Linked DNA regions of Homo sapiens. The protein of the gene in region 2 interacts with the protein of the main gene of each other region in a pairwise test. Each region holds a gene or a part of one and is shown on either strand. Other genes may lie near its edges. The genes, in order: TYROBP and TREM2.

Region 1 (4,263 bases), on a different chromosome or scaffold from region 2:
GACTCAGCCAGGCCTGAACAGTGGTGACCGTGGGCTGAGCTGGGACCTGACCCTCCTCCAGGCTCCAAATCTCCTCTCCTCCCTTCCCCCACAGGCCACTGGGCATCTGCCCTGTGACCAGAATCCAGTTTCCCCTTTTTTCTCCTAAGCCCAGGCCCAAGGAGCGGTGGGTGTGACGTGTGGATGGGGGAGGGGGGCTTCCTGCAGCTGTCTCATCCTCCAGCACCCTAACCTCAGGTTCCTCCTTCCCCAGCCCCAGGCTCCAGCTGGGGGCTAGAAGTCCCCGTCTCCTTGGGGTGGCCTCCCTTGGGCCTTGCTCCCAGCCACTTCCTCATTCAGCAGGAGAGCCAGCCACCTGCCTCTCCCCAAGCCGCCAGCCGTGCCTCTGTGTCTGTGCCACTGCCTTACTCTCACCTTTCTCAGCTTTGCCGCTGTTTTCTCCTTCCCCATCTTTCATCTTTGTTTTTCCCCCTGACTCTTCCCTAGTCAAAAACCTGATTTTGGGTCTTGGGTTCCATTTCCACCTTGATTTGCTGTGCAGCCTTAGGCAAGCGTCTCTACCTCTCTGAACAATGGGGATGATAAGAGCATGTGCCCTAGAAGGGCATTGCGGGGACTGAATGATTTAACGCTTGGGACAGAGTGCCTGCATGTCATTAGTGCCCACATGCTGCTGGCTCTTTTAATATCCTTTAAACAGCACAAGTTTCTGATGATTAAATAATCATCATCATAGCTGATGCTTTTAAAAAGCTGACAAGGGTCAGACCCTGGTCTAGGAACTTTAATTCATTTAATCCCCACAACTCTAAAAAGTAGGTCCCATTTTACTCCCAATTTTACAGATGAAGAAACTGAGGTTGGAGCTGGGTGCGGTGGCTCACACTTGCAATCCTAGCACTTCGGGAGGCCAAGGTGGGTGGATCACCTGAGGTCAGGAGTTTGAGACCAGCTGGCCAACATGGTGAAACCCTGTCTCTACTAAAAAAAAAAGAAAAAAAAATACAAAAAATTAGCCGGGCATGGTGGCAGGCGCCTATAATCCCAGCTACTTGGGAGGCTGAGGCAGGAGAATCACTTGAACCCGGGAGGCAGAGGTTGCAGTGAGCCGAGACCGTGCCATTGCACTCAAGGTTGACCAGCCAGGAAGAGGCAGAGCTGGTTTCAATCAGCCAGAGGAAGGTCATGACACTGACCCTCCTGTTAAAACGATGTCTGACCCCTGACTGGGGACGGAGGTGAAGTTTGTGCTTCACGTACCCTTTGCCCTTCACGTCTAGTTGCTGGGGGCCTGTGGCATGGCCCCTGGGTGTCTGGGCCTGATTCTTTCTTGGGTTTTGTTTCTGTCTCTCCTCCCCTGTCTCCTCCTCCCTTCTGCCACCACCCGCCTCAGACTTCCTCCTTCACTTGCCTGGACGCTGCGCCACATCCCACCGGCCCTTACACTGTGGTGTCCAGCAGCATCCGGCTTCATGGGGGGACTTGAACCCTGCAGCAGGCTCCTGCTCCTGCCTCTCCTGCTGGCTGTAAGTGGTGAGTTAGGGGCTTCCGTGGCTGCCTCCCGGGTCCCTGGGCTCAGCTTGGGGCAGGGCAGGGAGTGGGGTGGAACGAGAGAACCAAAAGTGGGTGTTGGGATGGGAGCAGGTCCCCAACCTCCCAAAGCCTGTGGGTTTCTCCCAGAGCCCAAGCCCCCAAGTTTTGTCGTCCGCTACAAGCAGGGGAGAAGAGACATCTAAGTGTGTTGCCACAGGACAAGTTGTGCAGAAGTAACGCACATAGTCCGGTGGCCCAGACGCCAGCCCCCTGAGTCCCGCCAGACACGCTCTCCCCCTTGCTAACCTCTTGGCTGTCAGGATCCACCTTCCCTGGCTTCTAAACTTGCCTCCCCCACCCCCGTCATAACTCTGTGCCTCAGTTTACCTTCTTTTTCCTCCTCAGGTCTCCGTCCTGTCCAGGCCCAGGCCCAGAGCGGTAGGCCTAGACCCAGCAGTCCCTCTCTCTACCTCCCAGAGACCTCCCTGTCTCCGTCTCTCCCACACCCTTTCCAAACCTCCCTGCCGCTGACCCCCCTCCCCACAGTTCCCAGCACACACTGACCTCCCCTGACCCCTGTGCTGCAGATTGCAGTTGCTCTACGGTGAGCCCGGGCGTGCTGGCAGGGATCGTGATGGGAGACCTGGTGCTGACAGTGCTCATTGCCCTGGCCGTGTACTTCCTGGGCCGGCTGGTCCCTCGGGGGCGAGGGGCTGCGGAGGGTGAGTGGGGCTAGCAGGGGACATCCTGAGGACTTGCCTAGATGGGGGTGGGGGGCTGGGTAAACTCCCAGATCTCAAACATCCAAAGGGATGGTAATGGAGGTGCTGATTTGGAATGACAAAACACCCTCAACTCACCACTCTGCCTGTCTCTGCACCCCACAACACCCCTCACCTCCAGCAGCGACCCGGAAACAGCGTATCACTGAGACCGAGTCGCCTTATCAGGTGAGAAAACCAGACTGTCCTCCTCACATTTCACTCCTGCCAGGGATATCTGCCCCAGATACTCCTTCATGCCATCAGAGGGACCTCAAAGCCACTCTGCCTAAAGCACCCCCAAACCTTGAAGGCACATGGGACATCTGTCCAAAACTGGGCCGAATGATCAACCACAAGCTTATGGTCAGCTTAAAATGTGTGAAGAGGGGCTGGGCACGGTGACTCAAACCTGTAATCCCAGCACTTTGGGAGACAGAGGCGGGTGGATCACTTGAGGTCAGGAGTTCGAGACCAACATGGTGAAACCCTGTCTCTACTAAAAATACAAAATTAGCTGGGCGTGGTAACGCATGCCTGTAATCCCAGCTACTTGGGAGGCTGAGGCAGGAGAATCCTTTGACCCAGGAGGCGGAGGTTGCAGTGAGCCAAGATCACGCAATTGCACTCCAGCCTGGGCAACAAGAGGAAAACTCTGTCAAAAAAAAAAAAGCGTGAAGAGTTAAAAAGAAAAAAAAAAGGGTGGCTTTGCCTTTGTAAGTGTAAACACAGGCCTTGCCAGAAGTCAGGCCAGGAATTTTCTGGAAGAAACCCAGCCCTAGGACGACTGATTTCTGGGAGACGCTCTCAGTAGGGCAGAGAATGTCATTCAGCCCTACCTTGGTAACTCTAAAGAGAGGAGTCCTAGAATCTCTTTTTTGGGTTTGAGGACCCTTCATCCCTTTGAGAAACTAAGAAAATCTAGACTCCCAGAAAAATCTACACAAAAAATACAAAATTGTGCATATAATCTGAGAGCAGTGTAAATGTTCTTTATAATTAAAAAAAATTTTTTTTTGGCCAGGCATGGTGGCACACACCTGTAATCCCAGCACTTTGGGAGGCCAAGGTGGGTGGATCACGAGGTCAGGAGTTCAAGACCAGCCAGGCCAGGATGGTGAAACCCCATCTCTACTAAAAATACAAAAATTAGCTGGGCATGGTGTCATGCGCCTGTAATTCCAGCTTCTCAGGAGGCTGAGGCAAGAGAATCGCTTGAACCCAGGGGGCGGAGGTTGCAGTGAGCCTGGGCGACAGAGTGAGACTCCATCTCAAAAAAAAAAAAAAGACAGGGGTCTCACTATGTTGCCCCAGCTGGTCTCAAACTCCCAGTCTCAAGTGATCCTCCCGCCTCAGCCTCCGAAAATCTTGGGATTACAGGCTCAAGCAACCATGCTGGTTGAGTATTCTTGAAGCTCTTTTTTCTTTCTCTACTTTAATTTTTTTTTTTTTTTGAGATGGAGTCTCATTCTGTCACCCAGGCTGGAGTGCAATGGTGTGGTCTCAGCTCACTGCAACCTCCACCTCCCAGGTTCAAGCGATTCTCTTGCCTGAGCCTCCCGAGTAGCTGGAACTACAGGTGCATGCCACCACACCCGGCTAATTTTTGTATTTTTAGTAGAGATGGGGTTTCACTATGTTGGCCAGGCTGGTCTCAATCTCCTGACCTCGTGATCCGCCCACCTTTCCCTCCCAAAGTGCTGGGATTAGAGGTGTGAGCCACCGCGCCCGGCCTTAATTTTTTTTTTTTTTTTAAAGTAGAGATAGGTTCTCACTATGTTGCCCAGGCTGGTCTCAAACTCCTGGGCTCAAGAGATCCTGTTACCTCGGTCTCCCAAAGTGCTGGGATTATAGGCATGAGTCACCATGCCTGGCTGAAGCTCTTTTTAAAAACTATAGAGTATACAAGAGAATCTAGTCATCTATCCCCCTCTCTGTCAATGTTCCTTTTTAACCCTTTAGGGGGTCA
Region 2 (4,354 bases):
TATAAAGTGGGCCGTTAGGAACACTTCCTTAATAGCAGGGTTGCCAGGATTCCGTGAGGGCACCTCTGTGCCGTATCCAGCACCTCATCGGAGCTCAGTAACTGCAATGCCCCCCTCCTTCCGCACAGGGGCTAAGAAGAGCAAATACAATCGTGGATGTACTTGAAAATCCTATCTAAACTGTCAAGCTGTCTACACAAGCTATGGGCTACTTTTATTTTTCTGTCTCCCTCTTGGGAGGTGGCTAAGGGAGTTCACTGCCACCGGCCATCCTTAGGAAAGTGGTGGAGGTGGGGTTTGTGTCTATGACTGGCAGTCTCCCCTGGCCTCCCCAAGTCAGGCAAATACTACTCCTGACCTCATTTCCATGGTAAAGAGCCATACTGGGAGAAGGGGTTGGAAAGGAGGAGAGTCAGAAAAGGCCTTTGTAGCCCCAGATTTGTTCTCCTTTGGGGACACAGTTGTGTTCTGCAGACTCAAGCAGAAGGCCTTCCTGGAGGGTGGTCCCTGCGCAGAGCTCGGGGGTGGAAAGGAGACACCCTGGCCCACCTACTCACACCTGGAATGACGATCCCAAGACAGTTCAGTAGCAGGAGGCTTGGAGCACATGTCACACCCTGCCCCCAACGCCCCCCGCCAAATAAAAACTCACAGGAACCCTATGGGGTCAGCAGGACAGACACCACCCTCTCCATTTACAGATGAGAGAATGGAGGCCCAGAGAAGTGAAGCACATTGCCCAGCACAAGCAGTGTTCCTTTCTAGGGGTGATTTTCTGCACCAGGTTGGTGCTTCACTTACGTTGATAGGGCCATTGGTTGGTTGGTGAGGGAATAAATTAATCTCCTCCTCCTTAAGGACCTCCTATCATGTTCACATGCTAACTGGATGGAGATGGATAAAGCTGTTTGGGCAAGGAGGGCCAAGGCCAGGCTAGTTCACAGAGTGCCTTAATGCAAAGTAGAGAAAGGTGCCCTTCTTGCAGGTGATGCAGCTCTGCACCAGGGAACACAGTCTGGCAAAAGGAGTCCGGGCTGGATTTTGGCCCCCTTGTATAGTGAGCAACCTGCACAACTATCCTTGGTAGCCCTGAGTAGGGAGATGAGACCATACGATGGGTTTTCCCAGGATCCCTGAGAGCCCAGTGGGTGGTTCTGCACACAGACGCCCAAAACATGAGGCCTGGAACAGGGGCAGGCCAGAGAGGCAGCCACTGCCCACTCACCTGCCAGCACCTCCACCAGGACCTTCCTGAGGGTGTCAGCCTCACTGCCATGGAGGCTCTGGCACTGGTAGAGACCCGCATCATGGGGTTGTAGATTCCGCAGCGTAATGGTGAGAGTGCCACCCAGGGTATCGTCTGTGATGGCTGTGCTCCCATTCCACCTCCTCAGGAAGGACAGCAGCCACAAGTTGTGCGTGCTGACCACACGCTGGCATGGGCCCTTCTCTCCCAGCTGGCGGCACCAGGCCTTGCGCCTCCCCCAGTGCTTCATGGAGTCATAGGGGCAAGACACCTGCAGGGACTGGCCCGCCACGCCCTGGAACACTGTGGTGTTGTGGGCTCCGGACAGCTCTGGGGAGGAGACATTCATTCACTCCTTTGTTTACCAAATACGCTTTGAACACTTGCTCTGTGCAGTGACCTAAACAGACAAAAATCCTGCCCTGAAGGAGCTTAGGTTCTTATACAAGTTGGGAGCGGATGGCACAGCATGTGTTTGTGGGAAATTGGGAACCAGGAAACCTGGGACCTGGGTTTGGTTTTCTCACTGTTGCTCTTGCTGGGCCTCCTTGGAGAAGTAACTGACCTTCTCTGGGTCTATTCTGGAGGCACTTGGTCTTAAAACCCCCTCCAGTTCTGTTCTGCACATCTCTTTGCCATCATTTGGGACTGGGACCTCTCCTCTCGGCCTGGGGCTGGCTCTCCCTGCCCCGCCACTCTTGCTTGCTCTGCAGCCGCCCACATTGGTACCGACTTTCCTGACCTTTAACTTCCAGCTTCCCTATTTCTGTGGCTTTGTTCCCCTTTCAGGAAGGACCCGTCTCGGAGATATTTTGGGGGAGACATGAGGCTGCTATTTTGGGAACCCTCCTTAGGGCGGGGGAGATGGGCTTAGAGCACCAGCCTGTTGCTGGGGCAGCCCCCAGAGCCCCCTGCTTTGACTTCTCTCTTGGTCCTCCCTTGCCTGCCATCTTCAACCATTACTGTGACAGAGGCTTGAAAGATAGGATTGGGAAGTTGGTGGCTTGCCTTTTGGAACTAGAGAGACCAGATGGGCCGTGGCCCTCTCCCATCTGACCACCTCCCATCCATGCCTCAGAACCCCGCCTTCCCCCTGACCACCATCTAAGAAGCTGCAGGAACAAGACTCCATTTGGCACCGTCTCTCCTCTTGCCCAGGTTTGTCCAGTGCTCTGGGGGAGCAAAAGGTGCGCTTTCCTCAGCGGGAAGAAGCAATTGTGTACAAAAATTTGGTGTGTCAATTCCCCTCAACTCAGCAACGGAAATCTCTACGCTCCTCACCTCCCATCAAGAGCTGAGGACAAGGGGACCTTCAGAGCAGGGGAGAGAGTGCCCCAAAGATGCAGATGAACATCCTCAGGTTCTTTCCTCCTTTATAACTGTAGGGGCTCATAATTAGTGGCTTATAATTTCAGAGGCTATTACCAGTGCCAGTGCCCCCCAAAGCTTCCCCCAACTGCCAGCTAGTGCCTGGGATGCCACTGTTAGCACTCCTTCCCTTCCAATGCAACCAGAGTCCACCAGCCCCTTACATGTCCACATGCAGAAAGAGTCTGAGGGTAGGTTTTGATACTGGGGAGGGAAGGAGGGTGTGAAGAATATGGGCAGGGTGGGGAGGAGAGGAGTGCAGAACAGGGCACTCAGGCATGCGAGGACTGCCACCGCCTTCATAATTCACCCCAGGGCCCACCACCCGCGCCCCAACCACATGCTCAAAGTGAGGGAGAGAAGGCATCACAGGGCACGGAGGGGATCCTACCTGTGACAAAGAGTAAGATGAGCAGCCGGAGAGGCTCCATGCCACCCTTCCCCAGCCAAGGGCAGAAGCAGAGTGCCTTGTGCAAGATCTCGTCTTTCCCTTGAACTGCAGAAAAGAGAGGATCAGGCATGTCAGGCGCTGCCCACAGGAACTGGGCTCCTGGGGATTAAGCAATAGTCAGGACTGGGGTCTGGAGGCGGTGCAGGGTGGGGACAGAGGGGAGGAGGAGTCGGCCACTGCAGCCCTGGCAGAAGGAGGCTGAGTCTCCCAGACCTCTGAGAAGCCAGCCCACCCTCCTGCTGGTGCCAGCCAGGGTGGCCCCCAGATGGTTGGGGCTGGTAAGGCCCTGCACTGCTCAGTTTCCTTGCAGAGCCTAGCCCAGGGATCACTATCCTCACAGCTGTATTCAGACCCTCCACCAGCTGCAATGCCCGCCATCTTCTGGTTTCAGCCTTGCAAGAGTTGGAGAACAGCTGTGCCTTTAGAGGCCAGGACCCTCATCCAGCACCTCTTAGTTCATCCCCCCAGGGCTGTCATTCCTGTAGTGTGGCAGCAGTTAAGTACACAGCTCTGGAGCCAGACTTCCTGACTTTCTGGGTGTGTAACCACACATCCAAAACCTACCTGTGTCTGTTCCCTGATCTATACAGTGGGAATAATGATAGTGCAAAGGGTTATCAGGAGCACCATATGGGTTCCTACAGGTAAAGTGCTTTCCAGTAGGGCCTGACACACAGCATTCAACAAATACTAACTATTACCATTATCCTAGTTAGAAGGGAAAAGGGAAATGGGCTGTCCATAAGACAGAAAATTTTCTCTCCCACCTGGAATTTTCTGCCCAAGTTTAGCCTTCTTGGAACTGTTGGGTGTCTCCTGTGCACACATGCTCACACTGGTGTTTATTTTGTGCACACACATGCTTGAACTCCTGATCATCCTATCCTACAGGACAGGACAGGATATTTCTCAGAGTTCTGGGGGTAGGGGTGTGTTTTTCTACACGTACAGGTTCCCATGGTGATCCAAGCACAGGGACCCACGTGTGCAAAGGCACAAAAGTGTGAAATGGCCCAGTGAGTCGGGGATTGGATGGAGGAGGCTTGAGTCAATTCTAGGAGTGGGAAATGGAGTTGTGCTGGGAGTGGCAGAAGAGGCTGGAGAAGCCTGCAGGAGCCTGTAGATTATCAGGGTCTACTTTAGTTTCCTGCAAACACTCACTTATTTGTTCTTTTATTCATTTATTTACTCATATTTACTGTGCATCTAACTTACGGACAGGGAATGTGCTTGGAGATGGGGAATTCATAGTGAGGAGAAGACAGGCCTCCACTCAAAGGGCCAACTGC

What was found.
Region 1: the proteins of TREM2 (region 2) and TYROBP interact in binary tests that used the Homo sapiens proteins (3 or more experiments, as listed by UniProt).

What each region holds. Positions count from the first base shown.
Region 1 is NC_000019.10:35,905,438-35,909,700, reverse strand, and holds the start of TYROBP (TYRO protein tyrosine kinase-binding protein isoform 1 precursor), read left to right. Parts: upstream 1-1,405; 5' UTR 1,406-1,472; coding exon 1,473-1,533; intron 1,534-1,938; coding exon 1,939-1,971; intron 1,972-2,120; coding exon 2,121-2,255; intron 2,256-2,436; coding exon 2,437-2,483; intron 2,484-4,263. UniProt on the Homo sapiens protein: Adapter protein which non-covalently associates with activating receptors found on the surface of a variety of immune cells to mediate signaling and cell activation following ligand binding by the receptors.
Region 2 is NC_000006.12:41,160,038-41,164,391, forward strand, and holds the start of TREM2 (triggering receptor expressed on myeloid cells 2 isoform 1 precursor), read right to left. Parts: upstream 3,080-4,354; 5' UTR 3,046-3,079; coding exon 3,006-3,045; intron 1,577-3,005; coding exon 1,226-1,576; intron 1-1,225.